Linked DNA regions of Homo sapiens. The protein of the gene in region 1 interacts with the protein of each later gene in a pairwise test. Each region holds a gene or a part of one and is shown on either strand. Other genes may lie near its edges.

What was found.
Region 2: the proteins of GPR37 (region 1) and FAM76B interact in binary tests that used the Homo sapiens proteins (3 or more experiments, as listed by UniProt).
Region 3: the proteins of GPR37 (region 1) and ADORA2A interact in binary tests that used the Homo sapiens proteins (3 or more experiments, as listed by UniProt).

Annotation. Positions count from the first base shown.
Region 1 is NC_000007.14:124,759,078-124,762,828, reverse strand, and holds part of GPR37 (prosaposin receptor GPR37 precursor), read left to right. Parts: intron 1-3,751.
Region 2 is NC_000011.10:95,769,170-95,772,920, reverse strand, and holds part of FAM76B (protein FAM76B), read left to right. Parts: intron 1-1,270; coding exon 1,271-1,360; 3' UTR 1,361-3,751. UniProt on the Homo sapiens protein: Negatively regulates the NF-kappa-B-mediated inflammatory pathway by preventing the translocation of HNRNPA2B1 from the nucleus to the cytoplasm.
Region 3 is NC_000022.11:24,430,511-24,434,261, forward strand, and holds part of ADORA2A (adenosine receptor A2a), read left to right. Parts: intron 1-386; exon of another isoform or gene 387-1,052; intron 1,053-1,737; exon of another isoform or gene 1,738-1,924; intron 1,925-2,110; exon of another isoform or gene 2,111-2,216; intron 2,217-2,620; 5' UTR 2,621-2,894; coding exon 2,895-3,226; intron 3,227-3,751. UniProt on the Homo sapiens protein: Receptor for adenosine. The activity of this receptor is mediated by G proteins which activate adenylyl cyclase.

The DNA.
Region 1 (3,751 bases):
CAACATTGTTCCAGGCCTAAAGCTGGGGGATAAGTAAACAGAAAACAGTACCTACTTAGACGGACCAAAGCTGGAGACAGTAAATAAGACCCTCTGTTATCTTGACAGGGATCAGGTGCAGGATCATTCCATGACTATGAAATCAGCTGTTGCTGCTTTAGCAGCGTCCATGATTTCTCCTGTTGCCAAGCTTGGCGTATCTCTGAAACATCTACTTTGTTTGGTAGACAATTCATTTTTGAATTGTGAAGGAGCCAGTTGAACTCATGTTAGAGAATATGTGTCTATTTACCAAACTGCCTCTTCAAGGTCAGTTTCAAATTTCTTTTTTTCTTTTTTTTTTTTTATCAGAAGAAATTGACTTATGCAAGAAAGAGACAAAAGTATAAAGCGGACAAGAGAGGTACCTCAATGACAGAGAAGTGTATTGGCTTATCTCACTGGAAATGTACTGGACATGTAGAAATCTGTATACACTAGAGGGAAAAACAATAGGACAGAAAAAGGAAATTGGGGAAAGAAAAATAAAAACACCAAAGTTCTTGAAAGAACACCTTAAAAGAAAAGAATATCAAATTCAGGAAAGATTATAAAAACTTTGGTTAATTTAATGAGATATAAGCATTTTGAGCAATGGCATTTATTATGTACTTATTTTAATTTTCTTTTTCCGTAATTCTGAGTTTGTACAAATGTAATACTTTCTTTCATTTGTATTTCACTTTTTAATTTAATCAGCTCCTCCTTAAGAGTGCTTTGTTTTTTGCCTCTTATTATTAGTAAAATCTTTTACTTTCTGTATTTTTGCTTAACTTTTCCCCATCCTAGTAGCTTTCTCTATTTTTCAGTTATTAGTGCTAGCATTTATTTTTCTTAGAGAATCAAAGGCTTAAAAAATTCACTCATTTATTTTTTAAAATTACAGTATAATATACATTTTTACTGTTAAAATAGTGAATGAACATCTTAATATGTAGCATTTCTATATTTCTACCTAATCCTTATTACTCTGAAATAATTTTAGAATGGTTTATAAAAATAATTATTGGACAATATTGCTGGCTTCATAATTCCTGATTACTGAGAACAAGAACTACAGTCCAAATCTCAAAATAAAAGTGTGTCTCCAGGAGGCACTGATGTTTTCACAAAAGTAAGAGGTATTTAGGGTTTCTCCTACGTTGGGTTCCTGCAAAAACAGGCCCTGAGATGTAGATTTATTGGGGCATCAAGTTTATTGGGTTGTGCTCTCAGGTTCAACCTATTAAGGAAAGAAGAAAGCAGGATTGGGCGGGCAAAGGGAGAAGTTGAACTGTGATGCAATTGCCACAGAGACCTCAGCTGACACCATTAGGAGCTTTAGGGCTGGGATGGCCATGCAGCCATATCCCAAATTGAGGCAAGAGGGCTCAGCCTTTACATCTCTTTATGGACCAGTCATTAGATGTAAGACATTGGATGCAAGCCTGCTCCCAGGATGGGGTATAACCTTGAGTTGGGTGGATCTCTTTGGTCAAGGGCAATTCCTAGAGAGGGATGCAGCTAAGCACTGTCAACCAATAGCCCCAGCAGCTGGAGGAATCAGTGCTTCATTCTTGAAGGACTTTGGAGGGAGCTGTCTGGGTGGAAAACCACAGCATCCACTACAGTAGCTTTTTTTTTTTTTTTTTTTTTGAGACGGAGTCTTGCTCTGTCACCAGGCTGGAGTGCAGTGGCACGATCTCAGCTCACTGCAACCTCTGCTTCAGGGGTTCAAGCTATTCTGCCTCAGCCTCCCAAGTAACTGGGACTACGGGTGCGTGTCACCACACCCGGCTAATTTTTTTTGTATTTTTAGTAGAGATGGGCTTTCACCATGTTGGCCAGGATGGTCTTGATCTCCTGACCTTGTGATCTGCCCACCTCTGCGTCCCAAAGTTCTGGGATTACAGGCGTGAGCCACCACGCCCAGCTTACAGTAGCTTTTGAACAATCATGTTAAATCAGACATAGATAATGTTCTAATCCAACTCCCTCATTTTAAAGATGAAATTTGAAGCTCAGAGACTATCCTAAACATATATACCTGGTCAGTAGCCACCAGACCCTTGGTCTCAATGCTTCATGTTTATATTTGCTGATTAGACCAACCTGTATGAAGCACAAGCTTTATCCAGTGAGTGTTTTCTTTTCCTTTCCGCTCCTTGGCATCTGAAAAATTTTTTCTTTTTTTAATCCACTAGACAGGAAAAAATAAAAACCCGTAAACATCATTTGTTATATAATGAAATGTATAGCTTCTTTTGTTTCTCATAAACTGTCAGTAAGTTCTGCAATTGGTAGTTAATTAAAATTTTTTAAATTGCAGTAATCTGAGACAACTATACTTTTTAATTTGCCTAGCATGATGACTTTAATGACCAAAAAGTTATATAGGTTAAATTTTATGTTCTTAAAATCATGAAGTATGTTAGATTGGTGAAGGACATTACAAGTACATTACATTTGTTCAAACTTTCTCCAAATCCCCTTCCAAAATTTTGCCTCTGACCTCAAGACTTTTAAAAATTTTTTGACATCTTGTCTACTTTCATATTTCTAAATTTTGCCATTCCTTCACTTGTTACTTTCTTATTTTATTTCTTGGCTATTTTTCCTTTCTTTAACTATGTATAATACCTTCTTATAGATTTATGATGTAGCATTCACCATTTTCCAGTAAGATGTTTAACCTTTTTCAGTGTTTTTATTTTTAATTTTTTCGTAGTTAATTTTAAATTTTATTCTCAATAGATTATGATTGAATTTTATAATTTTTCTCTCCCAGCTTCTCTTTTGCTTTATTTTTCTTTTCTACCACAGTTCTTTCTCCTGTACAGCTTGAGCGTTAGCATAATCTGAAGGGAATCGTGGGATTTTGGGGAAGATTTGGGTTTGTGTAGAAAAATATGAGGTACTTCTTGAGTAAAAACTATACTTTTTCTAATTTTCATTCAACTCCTCTTTCTATTTTAATTTGTTGGCCTAAAGCTTGAGGATAGCACCCAGCTTCCAAGGTCTATTGTGAGAAAGGAAGTTTTATGATGTTTAATATTGCCGTGAGTGAGAATGTTCTGGGAACTGTTGTAGTTGATGACTTTTCCCTTTCTATTCCAGGATTATGACATCTTTATGGCCTAATAATAAATCTCATAAAGTCGAAGGACAAATGAAATGGTAGGAAATGCCAGATAGGAGAGAAGAAAATTTGGATAGATCATGGCCGTCCTCCTAGACACATCAGTTTAAAGTGGTTTATTACTTAGCCACAAGAAAAAAACTATACTCAAAACAAAACTTGTATATGTAGTGTGCTTTTATGTGTATTAGGGGAGGTGGAGATATGTGTGGGTGTGGATTGCAATAGGAGAATGGCAGAGGAGTTCTCTACCATACCTACCATTCACTTAGGAATCTAACAAGTGTTTAAAACCAAATAATTTGGGCCAGGTGTGGTGGCACACCCCTGTAATCTCAGCACTTTGGGAGGCCTATGCAGGCAGATTGCTTAAGCCCAGGAGTTCAAGATCAGCCTGGCCAACAGGGCGAAACTCCATCTTTACAAAAAATACAAAAATTAACGGGATGTGGTGGTGCATGCCTGTAGTCCCAACCATTCAGGAGGCTGGGGTAGGAGGATTTCTGGAGCCTTGGAGGTTGAAGCTGCAGTGATCCATGATCATGCCACTGCATTCCAGCCTAGGTGACAGAGTGGGACCCTGTCTCAAAAAAA
Region 2 (3,751 bases), on another chromosome or scaffold:
ATCTGAACATAAAAAATTATTTGATTTGCACATATAAGATAGTACTGAGAATATTTGCATTTTAGAGGTCATGGGTGTTAATTAGCAAGAGTGATTGGAGAAGAAGGGTGGGGGAATGGAAGAATAAAGTTTGAAAAAGGTTATTTCATGAAACCACTTTAAGATGGCATACAGAGAAGGCAGAGTGTTATCTGCCCGTAAAAAGCTAAAATTAGAATAAAATATGAAGTACTGAGATTAAAAAAGTCTGTCTATATAATAAAAATTCCTGGAACCTGTGAAGGAAAATGGTGTTGAAACATAAGTCAGAGGATATCTTTTTAAAATGTGTTAATTTTAGGGCAGTGCTCTATTTTCATCACTTTCCCCATTTTGGCTCAAACTACAAAAATGCTTGATCATTAATGTATTTGTATATATAGGGATCCTTACTATCTAAGTTTTCATATTTAAGAGACTGAATAAGGTGACAAAGGCAGTCAAAATGTGAAAATATTCACTGTACTTACACATTCCTCTTCACTAAACTAGTGATGGATGGACATTTAATAATGAAATTCAAGTCAGATGATGAAATGAAATTTTGAATCTTTGTAAAAATTCAAGCTTTCATGAGATAGGAAATGATGATGTGGAACTGCTCAAACCACACTAAAATCAGTGTCAGATGACTGGTAACTAAAGGAACAACAAGATAATGAGTGGTTCTGATGGGTGCTTTAAAAAAAATTGAATATCATTGGGTGCATTTGGCAAAGTAACAAATTCTGAGTTGTTTTTGCAAAAATGACCTCTTATGCTTGTTCTACAAGAGAGTAAACATAGAAAAAAGACCTTATACAGCTTGCCAGGAAATACTCCTCCCAAATCTTGATTCATTCTTTGATTTTATTAATTGTAAATTACAACTTATTTTCATAGTTTTCATGTTTTTAAGATGAAGGGCCAAACACCTTTTCCCTATTAAAATTTGGACCTTCTTTTAAGTGGATTCACTTTGTTTCCTTTTTTGTAACCAATTGTGCATCTTTGGACACAATTATATTAATAATGACATATACAAAGGGGGCTGATGAGCCAATCTAGAATTTTCCTTCTGCATGTTCATCCTTAAAGAGATGAATGTAAAGGTATCAACTCTTTCATTTAATGTTAGTGCTTTAGTGAAACATTTATATAAATGAAAACAGTATTAAATAAGTAGTATTCTTCAGCATGACTTAATAATATTTCAAACATTTTTAATCTTGAATGTTTTTGTCTCCCACAGGCCAAAAACAGAGAACTACTCAAACAGGTCGCAGCATTATCAAAGGGTAAAAAATTTGACAAAAGTGGAAGCATACTAACATCTCCTTGAGAAAGTCATTTGTTTAGCATTTCTTCTTACAATGTAAATTTGGGGAAAAAAAATTCTGTGAAGCCCTTAAATTCTGTGTAGTAGAAAAATATTTTTGCACACCAAATGAATTGGTGTGTTTCCTGTTCACTTTTGTAATTGATATACAGCATTTTTTAAGTTGTAAAACATTCAAATAAAACTTCAACTGGTTTGAAGTAACTTTTTAATTATTTGATATCCAGGAACTTTTTTGCCAGCAATAGTATTAAACAGTTGTAAAGGAGTGCATGAGTAGTGCTCTTTATGAAACGCAACATGCAATAATAGAGTAGGTATGGTTTCAGAAGTCAGAGCAGCAGGGTTTTTTTGTTTTGTTTTTGTTTTACACTATGCTAATTTCAGACAAACAGTTTTCAATTTAGAAATACAAAAACTTTTAAACTCGAAAAATGGCGAACACTGGTTTTTTGGGAATTGTGTTTTTACTTTGCATCAAGATGAATTTAGGAGAAAATCACGGTGCTTTTATTAAATGAACTTCAGATATATGTAAATTTGTTTTTTAAAGTTACATCATTAACATTAGTAACCTAGCATTTTCATTATTGGTATAGGAATTAATGTTTATTGTACAGTATCTAAGGTAAAATGTGTTTCTGTTTTGTAAAAACTACTGTAGATTTTTACTTACAAGTGCCTTTTTGCCACCTAATGTTTTTATTTATAGGAATGCTGATCTTTTGTACATACATTTTGTTTTAAAATCATGTTTAATAAATGTTTGTATATAAATGCATATGTACAGAAGCCTATTTCAAAAGGAAATCAAAGTTGCTAGTAAAATGTTTGAGATTACATTTAGAACTAACTGATAATGCATATAGATTGTAGAAAATTTTGTGATTTGTTTCTGTGTGATAAGGGAAGCTGTTGGTCTTTGAATTCATTTAATTATGTCAAAATAGTTCCCCAAAGATTTAATTTTAAGTTGCTTCTTAAAGAGTAATTTTATTTTTTATGTCATGTGGCTTCATATTAGTATTGTGTGAGTTACATGTTTTGCTTTATATTTTATAAAATTTTTTAAAAATTTTAATGTTTCTGCAATGATCCATGTATCTGCTTTCCCTATGTGTGGTTATCTAAGTTAATATTTATGTACAATGTAATTTGTAAATTTAAAGCAAATCTGAAAAAAATTAAATGATCTTTTTAATCCAATCTGTGATAATCTTTGAATAAATTGGAATCTACTATAAGATTCAGGCATTATAAGTAAATTGTCCTAAAGTCTTTAAAATTGTCTATAAAAGGTTAAGGTAGGGTGGGATAGGTTATATGAAGTTATTGACTATATTCTGATCCAGCGGTTTTCAGCCTGAAATAGAATTTATCTCCTAGTTATTATCAGTTCAGAGTTTTAGTTTGATTTTAAAGTATTGCTAGATACACTGTATAGAGTGAGTTGCTTCTCTTAATAATTTATGGGCAAAGATAAATTTGCTTCATGTAAAACTGTTACTAAATTTATAAGTTTTAAAGGTTTTGTTTTATACAAGCATTGATTGTGAATGTCATATCAAAGATTGGCTTTCTTAAGAACACATGATTGAAACAATTTTTTTTTAACATGACGTGTTTCAATAGACTGTTCTCATAGTTCATTATAAAGTGAATACCAAATAATTCTTTGTCCATTTTGAAAGCATAATATAGGGTAATTTTCAAGTGATACAAAAAGATTCAGTTAGAATCTTGTAAACTAAACCAGTTTATTTTTATGGGATCTTCATGTAATAATTTTCTTAAATTTAGTACTCTCAACCATGATAGATAATGCCTTAACATGGATTTTAACGTTTGCAGGATTTGCTAAATTCATAAGATAGTTATTACCTTTCTTTGAAATTTGTAATGTTTTATATTCTTGTTTCATAGCCATTTGTCAGTCCACAGTGGTCATTATGGTTTTACTTTTTGATAGTTCTTACACCTTGTTGGAGAAACTACAAAAGAAAGTTGTCCTCGTCCTTCCCCTTAGCTAACATCAAAATTAAAAAGTTGAATATTAATATTAGCTAACATTAAAATGGAAGGTAATTCAGTTTTAGTGTTAGCTAACATTAACAGTCTAATAATTTAGCTTTGTAAATTCCAAGGCTAAAACCCTTTCATGGGCTTCACAGTATTTAGTCCTAATTAAATACCCTTCTTTATTCCATGACCTTATTTTATAACTTAAATTTTTTTGCAATTGTATAAATTAGTAATTCAGTCCCAGTCCTGGATCTCTGTAGTGTTTTGACATAATAAACTGATATTCTTTAAATGTGGACCTGTAAGGAGATACTATGGTGTGGTGTATTGTGCTTTTAGCCTGTTTTCCACTATTAATTAGCATTTACCAGT
Region 3 (3,751 bases), on another chromosome or scaffold:
CCAGGGCTGCCAGGGAAGCCTTGCCAAACAGAGGCCCTGGTCAGGCTTCTCCCAAACTGGGCATCCCAGCTGGCATGGCACCAGTCCAGCCCGTGAGGCAGGCGCCGATGATTTGACCCCACCAGCAGGGCTCTGGGTGATGGGACTGGGGAGTCCTCCTTCACTTTGGCAGACGTGTTATGTTCCACCTTGTTTGCCCCCAGCAAGGCCCTTGAATCTGGAGCGTGGTCTGGGGCTGCATCAGCCTTCTAGCCTGGGATGGTCAGATTGGCAGAAGGCTGTGGCATCCTTCAATGCAGATGCCCTAGAGAGGGCCGTGGTGGGAGGCAGGATCCCTGGGTAGAGGCGGCTCCTCAGTGGCCCACTGGGCCTCACTGGACAGTCGCCTGTTGCTGCTGCTGGTGGTGCTGGGCCTGGGAGTCCACCTTGGAGCCACAGGCCAGGCACCTGGGTGGGAGGCAGCCCGGGGCCAGCACCAGCTCCACTTGTACCTGTTGGGCAGGGGCTATCGTGAGTCAGGTGGGCCCTGGTGAGTACTGCTCAGGGAGAGAGGCCAAGAGCATCAGGGATAACTGTGTTCCTTGAGTGTGGCCAGGGATGGTGCCAGGAGAGCTGGTCTGGTGCATCCCTGCCAACGACACACTTTGTGAATGGCTGCCTGGCAAGTGCTCCATGGAAAGCAGGGGCTTGGGAGGACTCGGCCCTCTCCAGCTGCTGCAGGCCCTCCGTTGCTGCAGGGTTTCTGGCTCTGCTCTCTCCTTCCTCCTCCTGCTTCTGTGTCAATGCTCCATTCCCAGGCTCCTAGTAGGGGCAAAAGGGCCTGCTGGGTGCAGGAGAACCTCCAGTCCCAGGTATGGCTGCAGCCCGTGCCAATCCTGTTCCAGCCACTTGAGGTGCCGACAGCATTGGAGTTGGAGGGAAAGTTGGGGTCTGTGTGTTTGAGCTCTGTCACATGGACAATGGGGTAGAGGGGAGCCTGGCCCTTTGAACAGGGCTCAGGACCAGGAGTGACTTCCTCTCCAGGTTGCCAGTCCTGCTCCATCCCTCATGTCCTGGAAGAGAGAGAGAGACGAGGTGGCTGCCCGAGTCCACGTGAAAGGCAGCCTCTGACCTCTTGTCCCCAGGCAGGTGGTGGCGGCTGGCAACACACTCATAGGGCCCCATGAGGGTTCAGGATTGGAGGGGGTAGATTTGGGGGCCTCTTAGCTCTCAAAGAGGGGCAATTTAACGGGCAGAGGTCCATTTGGATCCAGACCATTCACAGGCTCGAAGGGGACACTGGGAGTTGGGGCTGGGCTCAGGCCTGCTGGGGAACCAAAACTTCTGCTTCTGAGGGGTGTCAGTAATTCCATTTTGACTCTGGGGGAGCCATTTTAAATCTGTTTATTTCCTTCTCATAGAATCATGGGTGAGAGCTGGCATGGCCCCTAGAGGTCATTTGGGGTCCAGCTGCCTCACCGTATCAATGAGGAAACTGAGGCCCAGAAAAGAAAAGCATTTTTGCCCAGAGTCCCTCAGTGAGTCCTGGTTCCGTACCTGCTTTCTGCCAGGGACCAAACTCCCGTTAGTCATTCCTGGTGTCAGCCAGGCAGAGGAGCAGGTGGGGGAGAGGGCGTGGGAGGAGGGAGGTGAGGCAGCTCCCTCCGAGTGGAAGCTCACAGTCAGCTGCAGCGCCGCCCCTGCCCTGACTGCAGCTGACTGGCAGGGGCACCTGGAGGCAGCGGGTTCGGGCGCAGTATGAGAGGGCTTACCCTCTGCGGCAGTGGGAGACAGGACCAGGCAGCTCCCCACATCCTTCCACATCCGAGCTCCAGGGGTCTCTGGCTTGTCCTTTCACAGGGCGGCTGGTGTCCCTTAGGTGGGTGCTGGTAGTTCCTGGGAGAGTTGACGGGATGGAGCAGGCCAGGGGGGCTGAGAAGTTGGCCTGGCGAGAGAAGGTGGGTGGGACTGGGAGAGCCTGGGCAGGGAGGGGCCTTTCTGGGAGGGAGTGTCATGGGGCTGGCCGAGATCCAGGACCCAGGAGACTGGCCAAGCTGCCACAGGAGGCCTGAGAGGCTGAGCATGGGGGGGCCAACACTGACAGACTTTAACAAGTTTCTGGCTCCCCCAGGAAAAAAACAGACCACATCTGATCCTTGGCCCTGAGTCCAGAGTGGGAGGCACCGTGACAACAATGCGCAGAGCAGGGAATGCAGGGAGCCATGGATAGTGCTGGGGTGAGCTGGAGTCCTGGCAGGGGCCCAGCTAGGGCAGTACTCATTCTGCAGAGCCTGGGAGAAGGGGCTGCCTCCTTGGGAGGGGTTTGTGTGGGAGTCTCAGCGGGAATTCTATTGGACCAGGGGAACCAGCCTTGCTCAGTGACTTCTCTGGGTGTCCTCCTCTAAAGTGAGGGTCAAATTCCCACCTCTCTCGCCTCCTGGCTATGACCACAGCAGACCAGGCAGGGCATGGGGCTAGGCGGGGTCAGGGGCCATCCTCAGGCTGACACCTGGCCTGTGGGTAGGGTGGGATCTGAAACTATAGGGTCTTCAGGGGGCCAAGTGTGGGGTAAGGGGTGGCACTTTCCGCAGGGCTCGCCCTCTGCAGATGGTTCAGCTTCTCATCGGCTGTCCCTTTGCAGGTGCCTCAGGAACCCTGAAGCTGGGCTGAGCCATGATGCTGCTGCCAGAACCCCTGCAGAGGGCCTGGTTTCAGGAGACTCAGAGTCCTCTGTGAAAAAGCCCTTGGAGAGCGCCCCAGCAGGGCTGCACTTGGCTCCTGTGAGGAAGGGGCTCAGGGGTCTGGGCCCCTCCGCCTGGGCCGGGCTGGGAGCCAGGCGGGCGGCTGGGCTGCAGCAATGGACCGTGAGCTGGCCCAGCCCGCGTCCGTGCTGAGCCTGCCTGTCGTCTGTGGCCATGCCCATCATGGGCTCCTCGGTGTACATCACGGTGGAGCTGGCCATTGCTGTGCTGGCCATCCTGGGCAATGTGCTGGTGTGCTGGGCCGTGTGGCTCAACAGCAACCTGCAGAACGTCACCAACTACTTTGTGGTGTCACTGGCGGCGGCCGACATCGCAGTGGGTGTGCTCGCCATCCCCTTTGCCATCACCATCAGCACCGGGTTCTGCGCTGCCTGCCACGGCTGCCTCTTCATTGCCTGCTTCGTCCTGGTCCTCACGCAGAGCTCCATCTTCAGTCTCCTGGCCATCGCCATTGACCGCTACATTGCCATCCGCATCCCGCTCCGGTGAGCAGGGCCGGGGTTACATCTGTGCAAAGGCTGTTGGTGCCCAGGCTTTGGTCTGTGCCCGGAGCCAGGGTGAGCCTGGGATCAGGGCCTGGTCTGCAGTGTCAGCATGGTGAGCTGGCGACGGGGCCCCAGGCTCAGCAGGGGCTCCCCAGGGCCAGCACGTGGCCAGCAGTCATGCCGAACTGACTGACCCCTATGGGCGCAGGGCAGCCTGGCCCTCCCAGGCGGCCTGGGTTCCCCTAGGCTGCCTGAGGCCAACTGTGCTCTGCTTTTTGGCAGATGAGTGTGGCCAGGGTCTGGCATTGGGCTTAGCAGGGAGCTGTGGTCCCAGTGACCCACGTGCTGCCAGCGGGTGTGTCTGGGCCATTCCTCACACACAAGCAAAACTTCCCGGATGATGCTGGGGTGGAGTGGGGAGCCAGGGGAAACCATAGGACCTCAGAGTTAGGAGCCGCCCGCCACCTGCCTTCCCCCAGATCCTCTGGGCCAGCCTTGCAGTGTGCACATTAGGAAAATGACCCA